2 separate regions of the Homo sapiens genome follow, and region 2 is linked to region 1. The links come from fine-mapping of genetic effects on gene expression. Tissue or cell type: whole blood. Region 1 holds a variant in brackets; the other region holds the start of a gene. All regions are shown on one strand. Distances are from middle to middle.

The links. PIP is the estimated chance that this variant, and not a neighbour inherited with it, causes the effect.
Region 2: it holds the start of SMARCD3, and the variant in region 1 is fine-mapped to the expression of SMARCD3 in whole blood (TOPMed, PIP above 0.99).

What each region holds. Positions count from the first base shown.
Region 1 is chr7:151,270,360-151,278,459 of GRCh38, reverse strand. It overlaps a transcript of SMARCD3 not described here. Among named protein-coding and RNA genes, the nearest start is that of SMARCD3, 26 kb to the right of the region's middle. RefSeq lists enhancers at 128-837, 2,991-3,790. The variant C/T (reference allele first, on the strand shown) is at 4,508.
Region 2 is chr7:151,244,644-151,252,743 of GRCh38, reverse strand. SMARCD3 (SWI/SNF related BAF chromatin remodeling complex subunit D3) reads left to right here and starts at 4,050. Exons shown (of 13, transcript NM_001003801.2): 1 at 4,050-4,259; 2 at 7,073-7,284. The coding sequence starts at 4,182. RefSeq lists enhancers at 1-529, 5,809-6,382, 6,383-6,957, 6,958-7,531, 7,532-8,100 and silencers at 3,390-3,479, 5,527-5,821, 6,896-6,975, 6,996-7,295.

The DNA of each region.
Region 1 (8,100 bases):
GTCGAGGCGGGCAGATCACCTGAGGTCAGGAGTTCGAGACCAGCCTAGCCAACATGGTGAAACCCCGTCTCTACTAAAAATACAAAAATTAGCCAGGCATGGTGGCAGGTGCCCGTAATCCCAGCTACTTGGGAGGCTGAGGCAAGAGAATCTCTTGAACCCAGGAGGCAGAGGTTGCAGTGAGCCGAGATCGCGCCATCGCATTCCAGCCTGGGGGACGAGAGCAAGACTTCATCTCAAAAAAAAAAAATTAAAAGAATAAAACAGAAATATTTTCAGATGAAGGGAGGATAGGAAGATACCAGAAAGGGAAGGGGTGGAAAAGCTCTGTCTCTGCCTTGGGCCTGCCCATAACAGAGACAAACCCAGGCAGTGCAGAGCCCAGACCCCAAAATACCCCTAGTGTTGAAGGTGTGACCTGGCCTGGGGGAGAGGCTGGATATCGGCAGGGGCAGAGACGGGAACCTGAGGGAGAAGGACCTGACCTTGACCTCAGCCTCAGACCATGGGTCCCTGCTGCCTGCCTGCCTCCTACTGGGGGCCTACGAGGCCCACCTGGCCCCAAATGCTTGGCAGGCTCCCTGCCCGCTGGCTGCTTAGGGAGGTGCTCCCACTTCCCCCGCCGTTGCCTGAGCTCTCTAGGGCTCCTTCACTCTGCAGGTAGGCTGGGGTCCCCCTCTGTGCTGGGCACTGTGGTAGCTCAGCCGTGTGAGGCGGGGCCCTGGAAGAGCCCATGAGATGGCCAGAGCTGGGCTTGTCTGGCTGGAAGCTGGGAATAGGCTTCTCCAAGCTGCCAAATTTAAGTATTGAGTACATAAAAGGAGGAGATTGGCATTAGTGAGAACATGGCCCTGAGGCTTGATGGACCCAAAGCCTCCCAGGGTATGTGCGTTTTGAGGGGGTGGGGGGTGCACATGGGTGTCCGGGACCTCGTCTAGGTAATGTCTGCAGCCACATAGGATGATCTGACTGAATCTGTGTGAGGACAACCGTTTGTGTGCCTGTGTGTGCGCGCCCACGTGCATGCGCGTGTGTGGTCCTAGTGTAGGTGATGTCTGCGGCCACACAGGATGCTGACTGCGTGTGTGACTCGTGGGCGTGCAGATGCAAGCACAGGCCTACGACACATCTGTGTACAGGCTGAAGATCACAACGGGTCTGGCCAGGGCCCGCCGAGGGCCTCCGAGCTGGCGAGCACACCGACGGCTGGATGGGGCGACGCTTCCTGCTCCGGTCCCTAACTCATTATTAAGCTCCTCGCTCTTTGCAGACGCTCCCTGCGCCTCCCCCGCTCCGGGCTGCAGCGGCGCAGGCGCCGGGCCGAGCCGAGCGCCGAGCAGGGAGCGGGCGGCCGCGCTCCGGGCCGGGGTCCCGGGGGAGCAGGTGAGCGACCCGCGCCGCGCGGCCCCCACGGCCCTTGGCGAAGGCGCCTCCCGGCCGCGCTGCGCCGGCGCCCCCGCCTTCCCTGCCTGGCAGTCTCTGCTCGCCTCTGTTGGCATCCTCCTCCTCCTCCTCCCCCCTGCCTGGCATCCCCCTCCTCCCCCTGCCTGGCATCCCTTCTCCTCCCTGCCTGGCATCCCTTCTCCCCCTGCCTGGCTTCCCCCTCCTCCCCCTGCCTGGCTTCCCTTCTCCCACTGCCAGGCATCCCCCCTCCTTCTCCTGCCTGGCACCTTCTCCTCACCTGGCACTTCCCCTCCTCCCTACCTGGCATCCCCTTCTCCCTTCCTGGCATCTTCCTCCCCTCCTCCTTTCCAGGTATCTCCCCCCACTCCTGACTCTTTCCGTCCCCCCGCCTGGCACCTCCCTCCACCCCCACCCCAACCTCGTACCTCTTCCTCCTACCCCTTCCTTGCACCTCTTCCCTGACTGGCAGACTCCCATTCAGCCCCTCTGTGACACCACCTCCTCCCCATCGCTGCCTGGCATCTTCCCCTCCTTCCCTCTCCAGTACCTTCCTATCCTCCCTCCACCTGCATCTCCCCTCCTTCCCTCGTCTGGCACCCTCCTGCCTGGCACCTTCCCCTCCTCCCCCTGTCTGGCACCACCTCCTCCCATTGCCTGTCACCTCCCCCCTGCCGAGCACTTTCTCAACCTGCTCCTGCCTGGCATGCTCTGCTTCCTACTCCCCCTGTCTGGCACCTTCCCTCCTTCCCCTGCCTGGCATCCTCTCCCTCCTTCCCCTACCTAGCACCTTCCCATCATTCCCCTGCCTGGCACCTTCTCTGTCTCCACTTGGCCACCGTCTTCCCTGGATACCCCTCTCCTATTCAGGTTGTCCCTCTGTCCCCCACCTTCTTGCAGGGCACCTCCCCCCCGACCCTGGACTGGTAGCCCCTCCCCTACCGCATCTTCCTCTCCTCATCCTCCCCTCCCACTCTGTCTCCCGGACCCCACCAGCTCTCCCATCCCCAGCACTCCCTGTCTCCAGCCTCCTCCTTCCTCATCCCCTTTCCTCCCAACCCTGCTCAGGATTGATCCATGGGCAGCAGCCTCTTTTGCTCACATGGCTTAACCAGACCCTGAGCCACTCCCAAGCCCCACCTCTGTCACCCACACCCCGCTCCTACAGCACTGCTCTCTTCTTAGCTCCCATGCCCCACCGTCTGCTCAGGGACTTCATTTCATAAGTTGGGTCCTGACCCAACGAGCTGGAGGCCTTCCTGCTCTTCCAGCAAGGAAGGAAGCAGGGCAGGACAGGACAGAGCAGGCACTAGCAGGGACCAGGAGGGAGGCGCCTAGGCCAGCTGGTAGTCATGGAGCAGGCTGACTACCTGCCTGCCACCTCTGGAGTCCCTCCATGCCCCTGGGCTCCAGGGCCATCCCAGTTACCATCCTGACCTGCCCTCTGGCCTTTGCCTCCAATGCCCAGCTCTCTCCCTCCAACCATTGCCACACCCCCAAAACTGGCCTCTCCAGTCAGGGCTTGGGCTCTGCCTGGGGTCCCTGCTCTGTCTTTCAAGTTCTTTGTCCCGCAGGACCCTGGGGCCGGTCTCTGTCTGCTTCCCACACATACTGCTCCCACCTGCGCCCTGCCTTGTGCCACCCCAGCCCCAGCTGGCCCATGCTGGTTGCCTCCATCCTAGGCCCTTTTTTCTGCACAGTGTCCTGGCTTCCTCAGACCTCCACTCCGGGGAGTTTGGCTTCTTCGCAGCTTCCCGAGGCCTCCTTGAATCTACGCTGGGGCTCAGGGTCTGACCTCTCCTTTCAGATCCTCAGAATGGCCCTTGGTGCTGCAGGCGCGGTGGGCTCCGGGCCCAGGCACCGAGGGGGCACTGGATGACTCTCCAGGTGCAGGACCCTGCCATCTATGACTCCAGGTCTTCAGCACCCACCCACCGTGGTACAGGTAGGTGCTTCCTCCCCTGCCAGCCCAGGAGCAGAAGCTCTGGGGCCCCATGGCGAGTCGGCCAGCCCTCGGCTCCTGCTCCCACCACATGGCCCCCTCCCGGCATTTCTGCCCCCAGCTGGACTCCTTAGTGCCCATGGCAGGGCCTCTCTGTCCCTCTCCCCACCCCTGCTGACACCTGTCATTAATGTCCTTCCCTCCATCCCACACTCCCTTTCCTGCGTGTCCTCTCACCTCCTGGTGTCCTTAGGTCCTGCCTCTCAAAGCCTTTCTGAGCCAGGGACAAGCTACCTGAAACCAAGTTTTGGGTTCATGTGAGCATGGTCTGGGCTCTGGCATGCTCTACTTCCTCCCCACCTAGACAGCCAGACAACACCCCATCTCCTCTCACTGCGTACATGAAGAAGCGTGCACATACGTGCACATGCTCACATGCACACACACCACATGCTCTCTGCGAGCTGGAAGGAACCTGCTGATTCCTTGGCACAACTTGTGCTCAGAAACCTCTAAAAACCCTCAGGGCCCCAGGCAGGGTTCCGCTTGTGGCAGGAGGGAGGTGGCAGCCGTCTACTGCACAGCCCGCAGTGGGAGCCAACCCTGCCCTGCCCCAGGCGGACCTCTAGCTCTGATGCACTCTGGGCCATTGCTTGCTTGTAGGGCCTTCCTAAGCCTCCTCCTCAAGGAGTGAGAGGAAGATGGTCTGCATTTGTCCGCATCAGTCCCCACTTGTCCAGAAGGACACACTGAGGCTCTGGGCAGAAAAGCCACCTGCCCCAGAGCCCCAGCTGGCATGGTAAGGGGTCGGAACTGAAGTCTGGTCTGAGCTCTGCCTGCCCAGCCCCACCCATCATCACGCTGGCTGGCCTCACCGGTGGGAGGCACCTGGCAACAGGGTGGGTACTGGCAGGGCCTCAAGGTATGTGGAGCCCAGTCCCTGTCCTCAGGGCCTGCGGCCTTGGAGAGCAGCCTTGACAATTGGGCACAAAGGGCCACAGACCACACAGGCCTCAGAGCACTGAGGAGGGAGACATCAGGAAAGTCCTGGAAAGGTGCAATTGGAAATGGCCCAGAGGAGCCTGAGGCTCGGGGAGGCCTGGGGCTGTGGGCAGAATGAAAGTGCTTTCTCTGCTTCTCCTTCCTCAGAAGTGGGCAGAGGAA[C/T]TCATCCTCCTGCCAGGCTGCTCTGAAGGCCAGGGACAGCCCCGTTCCCCTTCAAACTGCCCCAGTGCCCCTCCTCCTCCAGTGAGGTGCAGGCCCAGGGCAAAATGGGGCAGGGCACCGGCTTTTGGGGAAGCTGGCCTGGCCCAGAGGATCCAAGCCACACAGGGCAGCAGCAGGCACCAGTCACCTGGTACCCATCACCAAGGAAACACACCTGGTGGCGGCATGCCCAGCCCCACACCTGAAGCCCCAGTCCACCTGCAGGAAAGTCAAGGCCTCCAAGCAAACGTCCCACCCTTATCCCCAACACCTCCCCAGCACCTGAGGTGAACTGGGGACTGGTTGCTCAGTTTGTGGTGGTTGGTGTTTTAGCTGAAATTCATAAAGAAAAGGTGAGAACTAGTATATTAAACCAAGCACTCTACAGTTCTGGGGTGTCTGAGGTTAGAGGCCAGGTTGAACGGGGGGCAGGCTGATGGGAGGCAGCTAAGCTTCCTGGAGGGGTGCACCTGAAGTGGTCCCCCACGTGGAGAGTCCTCCTAATATTTGACATGCCCTTCGTTAGGCCCTAAGGGGCTCCCCAGCAGCAGTCGGAGGGAGCCTTGGGCTGTTCCAGACCTTTCCTGAAGGGTCACTGCAGGATGGGCACAGGGGAAGGAGGGCAGAGGAGGCCTGTGAAGATTGGAGCTGGAGCCCTGGGGCAGTAGGTCCATCCTAGTGACACCTGGCCCCAGAGTGACCCTGGCCATGAGTCAGAAGCCCCAGCTCCAAGAGTGACAAGGTGGTGGAAGTTTGGCATCTTATCTTGGAGTTGCATTCACATGCAATCGGCGGTGTGCGTTGCAGGCTCTTGGCAGCCAGGCAGGCACTTGGGCATTTGGATGCTGACAGGCCCTGGTGCTGGTGCCTAGGCGTCCGTCCTCACCCCAAAACTGGCGGTGTGACTGCAAGTGAGTGCTCATGATTAGTGAAAATTAAGTGGTGGAGATAATGAGCTAGAGGTGTCACTGGGAGGAGGCTGAGCCACCCATCGGGGATGAGTGGACTTCCCTCAGCTGTGGCTGGACTCCTAACCATCTGGAATTGCTGTACCAGAGGGGCCAAGCTGAGGCCACCGCCTGCCTCTGACGGGTACTTGGCTGAGGGACATCTTGTAGGGACCATTGCTGTGTCCCCCTGTGCTCCTTGCTAATGAGGGGTGTGGGAATCCTTGGTGACTCATAAAGGACCGTAGAGGAGGGCTGATCACTTCAGCCAGGCCCACATTTTGGGATAGCGCGTTCGGTTTCTTGACTTTCCAAGCTGTGACACCGATTCTTGGCACTCTACACTTACTTCCAGGGATTTGAGAACGTGCCTCATGAGCGTGCGCCCCACACAGGCCTCCTACTGCAACTTACAAACTTGGACCATCTCCCATGTGAACCTTTTTCCCAGACTGAAGATCGTTCTGGGAAAATGCCCTAGAGTGAGGGACACTGTGCCATAAGGGAGGGAGAGGAAGACACAGGGAGGTGTTCTTATGCTCCGCCTCATCCTGAAAAGGGTTTCAGGTAGTTTGCAAAGATACATATAGTGAGGAAACTGAGACAGAGATAGAGTAGAGAAAACATGGTGTTGCCTAGGATGTGGCTACTGCACCAAATGCAAACCACGAGGCCCAGAGACCCCGATGCCAGCAGAGAAGCAAGCAGTTACATGATTTACACTGTGCATGAGATAAAAATCAAACAACTTGCTCAAATCACGTGATTTCTGGTCCCGAGCCACTGGGAGGTCTCTCCTGTATGAGGAAATGAAGGGGATACCATGTGACAAAGTTATGCAATGTTCTCAACAATGTCACAACTGCTTCCTAGGGCTAAGGCAAGGACCAACACAATACTCCCCAGCCATAAACCTACTGGTAATATTGCTTAACCCAAACTTAAAATTTGGAGCAACTAGAGGAATGCATTGCTACCTTCAGGAAATACCCTCTTTCTCTTTTGTAAGAGACAGAGTCTCACGCTGTTGCTCAGGCTGGAGTGCAGTGGTGTGATCATGGCTCACTGCAGCCTCCAACTCCTGGGCTCAGGCGATCCTGCTTTAGCCTCCTGAGTAACTGGGACTACAAGCGTAAGCCACAATGCCCCCTAGCTTTTGTTTGTTTTGTTTTTATTTTAGTAGAGATGAGGTCTCACTATATTTCCTAGGCTGGTCTCAAATTCCTGGGCTCAAGCAATCCTCCCACTTCAGCCTCCCAAAGTGTTGGGAGGCATGAGCCATCGAGCCTGGCCAGGAAATACTCTCTATATTGATATTTACAACAATGTTTCTGATAAATATCAGGCAGCAGGAAGGTTTATTTAAAATTGGAAATTAAGTACAGAGTCACATTCTCCAGGTAGGGGTAATATCCTTATAGGAAATAAAGAGCTCCTTAAGCACACAGGCCCCACAGGTGAGTTTGGGTATGAGGAGGGACCAGTCCTGGTCTTTCCCCACAGGTCCTGAACCCATGGAAAAACAGGCACAGGCATCAGTTAACTTAAGTGCAAGGAAATTCAAGCTGAAGAGAGGCTTGAACCTGAGGCCCAAGTGTAGAAGGCAGGTCCTACTCCCTAACCTGGGTTTGCTTACCTGGGCATGGGAACAGAAGGAGATGATCTGTGTCCTAAAACAGACTCGTCTAGAAGAGGAATGCTGGCCACAGGGTAAGCAGCCTTGCCTTCAGCACCTTCACCCCACCCGCCTGGGAAAGGGATTGTGCGGCTGGTGCAGGCCCTCACCACCTCATCAGACAAAGCCTCCTCCCACAGGGAGGAAGGGTGGGGAGAGGGCCAGGGTCATTCCAGTATCTCCTCTCCTGGGAATACAGTACATGTTTCCTTGTGAACACATGAAGACAAGGGAGTAGGGCCCCTCTGCAGTGGGGTGGATGGGCCACATTGCTAAACAGTGATATTGAGGCTCAGGTCCAGACCTGAAGTGACCAAGTCCACCCCCTTTCTTACCTCTCCATTGGAACAACTGCCACATCCTTTTATTTGATTTTATTTCCTAGATAAGTGTCAATTCCATCTGCTTCTGATTTCCCACGTCACTGCCCTGGTCCACACACTGTGATCTTCTGCCCCCATCTGAGTGCCGCATACTCAGCCTTGTCCCTGCATCAGACCCCGGCCCAGCACAGTAACGAGAATGGGCTTCCTAAACACAAATCTGATTTGTTCCGCCTTCCACTTCCTAGTGGCTTCATTCTCGTGCCCTCACTCAGGGCCCTCACACATGCTGTTCCCTGCACCTCCGACACCCTTCCCAGCTCCCTTCACCTGGCTAACTGCACTCATCCTTGAAGCCTCCACGTCAGTTCCACCTCTTCCAGGGAGGCTTTCTCCCACCCGGCTTGGGCGTGAAGGCCCACCCACTCTCTTCTGTCTTGCAGCACCTACCAAAGAGGCTAATACTGAGTTGCAGGGCTCCTTAAAGGCATGGCTGCATCTGTCTTGTTCCACACAGTACAGAGAAGTATTTCTTGAATGAATGAGCAAATGTGTGAGGCAGTGGACAGAGAGGGGGTGGCTCTACGGCTGATTCTAAAATGAGCCCCA
Region 2 (8,100 bases), 26 kb after region 1:
TGGCCTGGCTTCGGAGCGTCCCCTCTGCTGACCGTCACCAGAGGCGGGGGTTGAGGTAGTCTCCCCTCCTCCCTCTCTGGAGCTGGGCGTGACCCCAAGGACTAGCCAGAGGTCCCCCGAGGCTGGTGCTTAGCCCGGGCAGGTAGGCTGGATGGCGGAAAGTGGGGCCTGGTTTAGAGATGGCCAGAACACCGAAACCAAGGCTTTGTGGTCCTCACAGCGCCAAGTGGTCTCACTTTCTCCCTCTCTCTTTCTTTCTCTCTCTCCCTCTCCTCTCGCGTTCTCTCGCTCTCTCTCTCTCTCACACACACACACACACACACTCACTCAGGCCGCCCCAGTGAGGGTGATCGTATTCTCCTAAGGAGAGCTTTATTGCTGGGGGTGTAGGGAAAAGGGAATAGAGGAAAGAGCTCTCTCCCAAGCAATCCGTTCTCCCTCCAGTCTCGCTTCCTTTGTTCCTCCCTTCCCTTCCTCCCTATCCCCTCGCCAGCTTCTCTTCTCTCCTTCCAGCCCCTTCTTCCATGTTCCCCGCTCTCCTGCTCCTCCTGCCGCGCCCCCCGAGCGGAGTCCCCGTGGTGGGACCTTCACGGAGGGCAGGAGGGCGGGACTGCGGCTGGGGCCCGGCCTAGGTGGCCATCTTCCCGCAGGGAAGGAGTTAAGTCTCTTCCCCGCATCCCTCCTCCCTCCGCCGCCTCCCCGGCCGCCGCGGAGTCCTGCAGCTGGGCCCCGGGCTGACCTTCACCGGGAGGGAGGCCGCGGCGCGCATGCCCAGGCCGGGGACCGGCGCGGGCGGAGGGAGGGGCGGCGCGGGCCGGGCCGGCCCGAGCCCCCCCAGCTCCCCGGCCGCCGCCCGCTCGCTCGGGCGCGGTGGGGGCGAGGCGGCCGAGCCCGTCCCGCAGGCCGCGGCGCATCTCTCCCTGCGCGGGGAGCGGCGCTTTGCCATTTGGTGCTGGTGGTGCTTCAGCGAGGGAAGGAGCGATGGGGGGACGGCAGGGGGGACTGCGGCGCCGGGCGCCGGGCGGCCGCCCTCGCCCCCGACAGGCGCACGGCCTGCCCCAAGTGCGGCGGGCGCCCTATTGCGCTGGGAGGAATCCACGCTCTTCCCGGGCCTCCTTCCCACCCGCAGGAGCCATCGGCGGCGTGGCACACCGAGCGCCCTTCTGGGGTTAAGCCACTGGGGATCCTGGCCTTTGTGAGGAGGGAGCCCTGGCCCGGGCCCCCACACTGGCGCCGCCCCAGCTTTCTGGTCTGAAGGCTCCTCCTGTCGCCCACCTAAAAGCAGTACGCAAATGTGTCTGGGCCTGCCTTGTGAATGGGGCCCACCACGGGATGTGGAGGTGCTCAAGGTGTGCCTGTGTGTGCAGAGCCATGTGGCTTCCTCGACCTTTTGGTGCTTGTATTGGTGTGCCTGCTGTGTGTGTGTTGGGAGGGTGTGTGTGCAAGGTGTATCTATTGTCTGTGTACACTTAAGGATGTCTCCCAGAGGGGTGGCTCAGGAGAGCGCTTATGTATGGACTTGGGTGAAGCTCACCAGCTCCTCCACAGGGGCTTCACCATAGCCCCTCGTCTAACTACCTCCCGCAACCTCTTCCACCACCAAGACCAAGCCCGGGATCTCCCAGGCCCTGCCTCAAACTTCCCAGCTACCCAAACTGGAGTGCCCAGCATCTCCTCTGCTGTCTTCTTTTCCCAAAAGGTCTCTCCAATAGTTGAGAACACTGAGCTTTAACAAAGCCTAGGGGTGTCTATCTCCAACCCCCAGAACCTCCAAGGCCTGTGGTTTCCCATGCCCCTGCTAGACGCACCCATGGTGGGTGGGGGTGCCCATGGTAACTCACACCATCAGGTAAATGGCAGAGTACCAGCTCCATGCATTGGCTCATTAAGCTTTGCAAGCATCAGGTATCTGGGGTACTGTTGAGTTCCTGTGCCCAGGCATGGAGGAAGAGTGGGAGTTAAAGATCAGTCTCTGACCTTATGGGGACCTTAGCCTCTCTGGGAAAGCAAAGCTAATGTCCTTGAAGCACAGTGCACGTCAGGCCAGTCCAATGCCAATTCATGGTGCTGGGTAGATGGCAATGAGCATTTGGAGAAGAGAAAAATCTTTGCATACAAGTAGGACGAAGGAAGGCTTCCTGGAGGAAGTGGGGCCTGGGCTGGGCTTTAAAGAATAGGTGTGATTTGGACAAGCAGAGGGAAGGCAGAGGGCAGGCAAAGGGCATTCCAGGTAAAAGAATCGGGGGCAGGGGCTAAGAAATGGGAGTGAGCGGGGATTCTGGAGGTTAGCAGGCAGACTGGGCAAGTCACTTCCCCAGGTTCCCAGCAGCATGACCTATGGCAGACAGAGGCAGGCCACCCACCCATCCCCACCGTGTCAGGGCCCAGGCTCTGTGTGTGGGGGTGTGTGGGGGGTAGTCTAGGCTAAAGCCCTGGGAGAGATTTGGTAGCAAGGGGATCTCTAGGTCCCCTTTCAAGCTAGGGGTGGTGGAGGAGCAACCTGGACCAGATGTCCTCCCTGACATTTCAGATTGACAGTGGGCACCTAAATGAACAGTGACAGCCAAGAGCACAACCAGGGCCAGCAGAAATCAGGCTGCAGGCAGAAAGGACCCCCTGGGCAAAGGCATTCTGAAGGGTTTAGGGTCAGTACCCTTCAGTCTTCAGGGCCCAACTTCAAGTAAGTGTTTCAACAAACTCCCCTAGGCACTAGGCTATGGTCCTGCCCTCACCTGGATTCTCACAGTGAGGCCCCAGCAGACCCCCAAACTTGACCCAAGGGCCTTGTTCCAAAGCCCACGGCTCCTCCCCAAGAAGGAGAAAAAAGGGGCGTGGCCTTTGGGGACCTGGGTAGGCCCAGGACTCCCTGCCTGGGTATGTCAGGATTTGCCCCTCCTCCTTCCGGTCCCTCCTCCACTCCAGGGACTGCCAACTCCTTCCACACGCCCCTTCTGGGGCTCCCTTGCCACCCCACGCCACACCCCAGCCTCAAGACCCCTCTCTTTGGGGTCTTGAGGCCGGCCCAATATACCCACTATACCCAGCCCAGCTGCCCCAACTCCTCTGGGTCCCCTAACCCCACTCCACCCCCACCCCAAGGAAACCAAGCCCAGCTTGCCTCGTTCTCTCCACGCACCCACCCGAGCACCCCCCTGGCGCTGCGCCATTCCCCACATTCATTCTCTTCCTGTTCTCATGAGCACAATCCCTGTCCCTCTTTCTGAAATACTTCCCCTATTGCCCTCACTTTCTCACAGAGCGGCAAACAAAGACTCACATACCCAGAAATAGCCTCTCACAGAGCTGAAAGGCACAGGCCATGTCCTGCCACACACGCAGGCGCGCGCGCACGGAGGCTGTCGTGGAGGGAGGCACACATACAGGGCGTCTGTCTGCACGCACATAAGCTGCCACGCCACAAAAGGGCGCGGACACACACGGCGTGTGAGACAAGGGCACACACAGCAGTGGACGCAGGGCCACGCCGCCGCCCGGGCACACCCACCGCCGCCGGCCCCGGGCAGGCGCGAGGCCTCGCGGGCCGGGCTCCCCCGGTTCCTGCCAGCGAATGTTTCCCTGCTCGGCCTGCCAGGTCTCTGGGGAAAGGGCCTCAGAAATGCAGCAGGAGCCGCTGGGGGAAAAGTTGGAACTGACTGTTCCCTGCCTGGCGCGGCCGGCGAATTCCCTGACGGAGAAACTATTTGTGGCGAGAGCCGGTGGCCGGCGACCCCCCGCCGCCTCCCCTGGCGTCCCCTCCCCGCGCCGCCTCCCGCGGGCCTCGGCGGCTTCGGGCTGCAGCACTGCTGCCCAGCGCCCGCGGCCGGGCTGGTCGGCGCGCCTCGCCGCTTATCTGCGCTGTTTGGACAGCGGGCTTGGAAAGGCAGGCGGCCCCGTCCCCGCCGAGTCAACAGGCAGACCCCGGGCCGCCGGACTATTTCTGTCTTATCAGTGCAGGAATGCGGCAGCCGCGGCGGCGGCGGCGGCGGCGGGCGGGCGGCGGCGGCGTGGGCCGTGGGCCGTCAGGGCAGCCCTGAAGGGGCCCCCTCCCCACTCCGCTCGAGTAGAAGTGTGAGAGAGCCCAGCAGGACTCAGAGGGGAGAGTTGGAGGAAAAAAAAAGGCAGAAAAGGGAAAGAAAGAGGAAGAGAGAGAGAGAGTGAGAGGAGCCGCTGAGCCCACCCCGATGGCCGCGGACGAAGTTGCCGGAGGGGCGCGCAAAGCCACGAAAAGCAAACTTTTTGAGTTTCTGGTCCATGGGGTGGTGAGTGGGGGAAAGTTAGCGGGGGAGGGCAAGCGAGCTGGCTCGGGCTGAATGGAGGGCTGATCGGGAGGGGCCGGGAGGGCGCTCCCGCTCTCCCACCCCTCTAGTGGGGGGCGTCATGGCCCACGGCCCGGCCGCGGGACTGTGCTGGCGCCCTGGCACCCGAACACGTCGCCAGGCGGCCGGCCGGGTCTGACGCGAGGCGGGGAAGGGAGGCGTTTGCATGGCTCTTGTCAGGGGCGGGGGTGGGACTTGGGGACTCTACCCCCCAAGTAGGGGGTCCTCGCTGTAGCCGACAGGTTGACTTTCGTTCTTTTCCTTGTGGGCCCAGGTGTTGCCCCTGCCCTGGGGGTGGGGGTGGGGGATGGGGACATGGCAGAGGCTGGGCTGGGCTGTCTGTTCATCCGTTGGGACAGTGTCACTGCTTGTGTCTCCGGAGCAAGGAGCAGGTGACCCTGGAGGCACTGTAGCGGGAAGCTCGCAGGCTGAGCCACCTCTGCATCCCAGCGGGAGGGCTCTGGAGCTTCTGCCTTAGGGTGGGGGAGAGGACCGCTCTAGGGACTTAGCCCAAGTTAGGGGCTCTGAGGGTCTCCTTGGCGGACTCAGCCACCAGAAGCTGATGTCCTTAACTCCTCGAACATGTGAAGGAAGGGGCTGGAGTTGGGGACATGAGGCCTAGAGACCGAAGGGACAGGGGAGCACTGTCCTGCCACAGGCAGGCTGTGAAGGCACGTGGGAGCCCGGGAGGCTGGAGCTGAGTCAGTAGGGCCCGGCTGGGAGGGGTATGGAGGGGTGGGGAATGGGAGAAGCAGGGGCTGCGACTCTTGGGATGGGTGAGGGAGTGGAGGCCCTGTGTAGAGGAAGCTGTCGGGTTTACTATGGCCAAATTTGGTTGTGACCCCAAGGAAGACACCCTCTCAGTAAGGCCAGAGTCCCTAGGATTTTGGCCTTTCATGGGGATGGGGCTGGTGGCGGGCACAGCTCTCTGGGGGCTCTGAAAGCCTCCCTCTCAGGGCCTCTTCAGCAGATGGGCCAGTATCCCTGGCCTTGATAACTGGGGAGAGCAGCTGACAGGAAGAGGGGGACTCCCTGGAGTGGCCTGTCCTCCAGCCCCAGGGACCCCTGGGGGTAACTTCCCAAGGTGTCCATGTCAGCTAGCTGAGTTACCAGTCCTAACCTGGCTGCTGGTGGGAGCCCCTTTAAAAAGGCCCATCTAGTGGGGAGAGGCTGTACACGTGGACTGTTTTTTTAATCTGGTCAACTTACAGCTTCAGTTCTTGAGTGGCTGTGAGCCCCAGTGCCCCACCTAGCTGGTGGCCAGGCCTGGGCTCCATTCTGGGCTGCTACCCTGGAGGCCTGAGTGACAGGGTCAGGTGGGGTGAGGGAAGCAGACACATGGACAGGCAGGTTTCACTGCAGGAGAGATAGGCAGAGACAGCTGCTGACCGAGGGTGGGAGGACATTAGGGTTAGACACAGAGCCTGGAGGACCAGGAGGGAGAGGTAGCAGTTGGAAGGAAAACAGCAAGCCCAAGGGGGCCCCTCCTCATGCCTGGGGGTGAGGTGGGTGGTGTGTCCATGTTAACAGTGCCAGGGTCTGCATCCCCTGCCCTCTGATCTTCTTCCTGCTTTCGTGGTCCCAGTCCCCATCCCACCCCGCTCTTTCTGTTTCACAGCCCCTGAAACTCTCTCTGGCCCTCCCCATCTCCCTTCTGGAGTCTGGACAAGTGGGGTTTGGAACACTTCGCTCGATGCATTTGCATCTCATTTACACCCCATCTGACCACCCAGGGGTAGTGGCAAGGGAGGAGGAGCCGCCTCCTCTCAGTCTCCACAGCCCCCATGAACCCTGACTGCTGACCTCACTGGGGTGGGGATGGGAAGAGGAGGAGGTGGCTGCTGACCTGGGCAGACAGGAAGGGAAATGTGAGTGCAAGTGTCACTGCCCTGACCCACCCCAGGCCCCCCTGGGCAGCCCACCTCTAACGCAGTTCCCCTCCTCCCAATCAGAGAATCCTGGCTGTGTCTGGGGCGCCCCAGCAGGCTGCCCTTGCCTGCCCTGCCTCCAGCCCTCACCCTGGGAGCAAATTATGGGGGCAGCTTGGTCAGCGAAGACCCTGGATGTGGGGACTTGGAGTCAGCCGAGGGGAGTGGGGTTTGGGACCCAAGGGTCAAAAGCAGGGACACAGGGAGCAGAGTGGCTGAGATGAGCTAGTGAGTACCAGGCAGAACCGCCCAAGAAGTGGAGCCTGAGAAGGAGGAGCAGGAGGAGGAGCAGAAGTCGGAGCAGGGAGCCGGGTACCGGACCTCAACCAAGCCGCAGAGAGCAAAGCCCTGGGCCCCCAGGAGGCAGCCCTTCAGGGGCTGCCTGGGCCAGGATGAGCTGTGTGACCTTGGCGAGGTCATTTTTCTCCTTGAGCCACAGTGGCCCCATCCGTCAAGTGGGGATGAAAGGACCTGCTCAGGCTGTCTTGCAGAGGAGCATGTGGATGTGAACATCTTTGAAAGGTTGAAAGGCGCCATTAATATTCATTTTTGCGGTACCTTCCGCAGCCCCGAGGCTCGCAATGCCCTGTGCGGTGCCTGGCTTCAGTTAGCTTCCTGCAGCCAGACGCCAAGCCCCTCCGCCAGAGCCGCGCAGATTCCGGCGCCCCTGCCCCTCCTACCCATCGCTCCCACCCATCGCTCAACGCTCAGGGTCACCAGCCGAGGGTCTGGTGGGGGAGGGGAGACGCCGGCTCACCGCGCCTGGAGCGGGGGGCCCTGGTCTGACCCACGGGCGCCCGTTTCTGCTTCACCCCCGCCCACCCCCAGCGCCCCGGGATGCCGTCTGGAGCCCGGATGCCCCACCAGGGGGCGCCCATGGGCCCCCCGGGCTCCCCGTACATGGGCAGCCCCGCCGTGCGACCCGGCCTGGCCCCCGCGGGCATGGAGCCCGCCCGCAAGCGAGCAGCGCCCCCGCCCGGGCAGAGCCAGGCACAGAGCCAGGGCCAGCCGGTGCCCACCGCCCCCGCGCGGAGCCGCAGGTGAGTGGGAGGCCCGGCGAGGAGGGGGCGTGCAGGGGCGGGCCCTGGGGGACCCGCAGGGACCAGGTAAGCGAGTAGCGGGGATTGGAAGGGGCGAGGAAGAATGATTAGCAGGGAGCGAGGCTTCCCGGGTCGAATGCCCTCTGGGGAGGTAGGCTTAGGGGGCACCGGCCTGATTCTTTTGTGTGCCCACGGTAGAGACAGGCTGCGGCGTCGGCAGCCGGTACCGCTTCCCTGCACGCTCCCCTCACCCTTCTCCTTGTCACCTGCTCAGTCCTTCTCTCCACCCATCAGGTTCTGGGTGATGCTTCAGTCTTTGGGGTGGGGGCGGGGCTTCCAGTGGGACTGAGGGCAGAGGTGTAGGACTGTGTTCCCCAAAGTGTGGTTCTCCGCTGAGCCTTCCTGCCGGCCCCCGGGCTGTTTCAAAGCCACTCCAGATTTTCTCAATGGGACTCTCTGACCATGGGGGTGGAGCTTGGGGATTTGCCCTGTGGGTAGGTGGTCTCTACCCAGTCCTGCTCTTAATTCTTAGGCACTCTGGCCCAGGTCTGCTCTCAAGCCACCAGGGCCAGCCCATTTCCTTGCTTTCCTCCAGCAGCTGGTGGCACCCTCAAAGCCCCTGCTGGCTCCTGGCAACAGCAGTGCCCCTCCGGGTTTCAGTATTTAGCCAAATACACATGCTTTTTTTGCACAACAGATGGGTTTCTATAAAAGGTGTAATATCAATTTTACCTCATTATTATTTTTTACACATCGGGGAAAAAATCACCACTTATAGGAATCCCATGATGAATTCTTTAGTAAAGTGCATCGTCA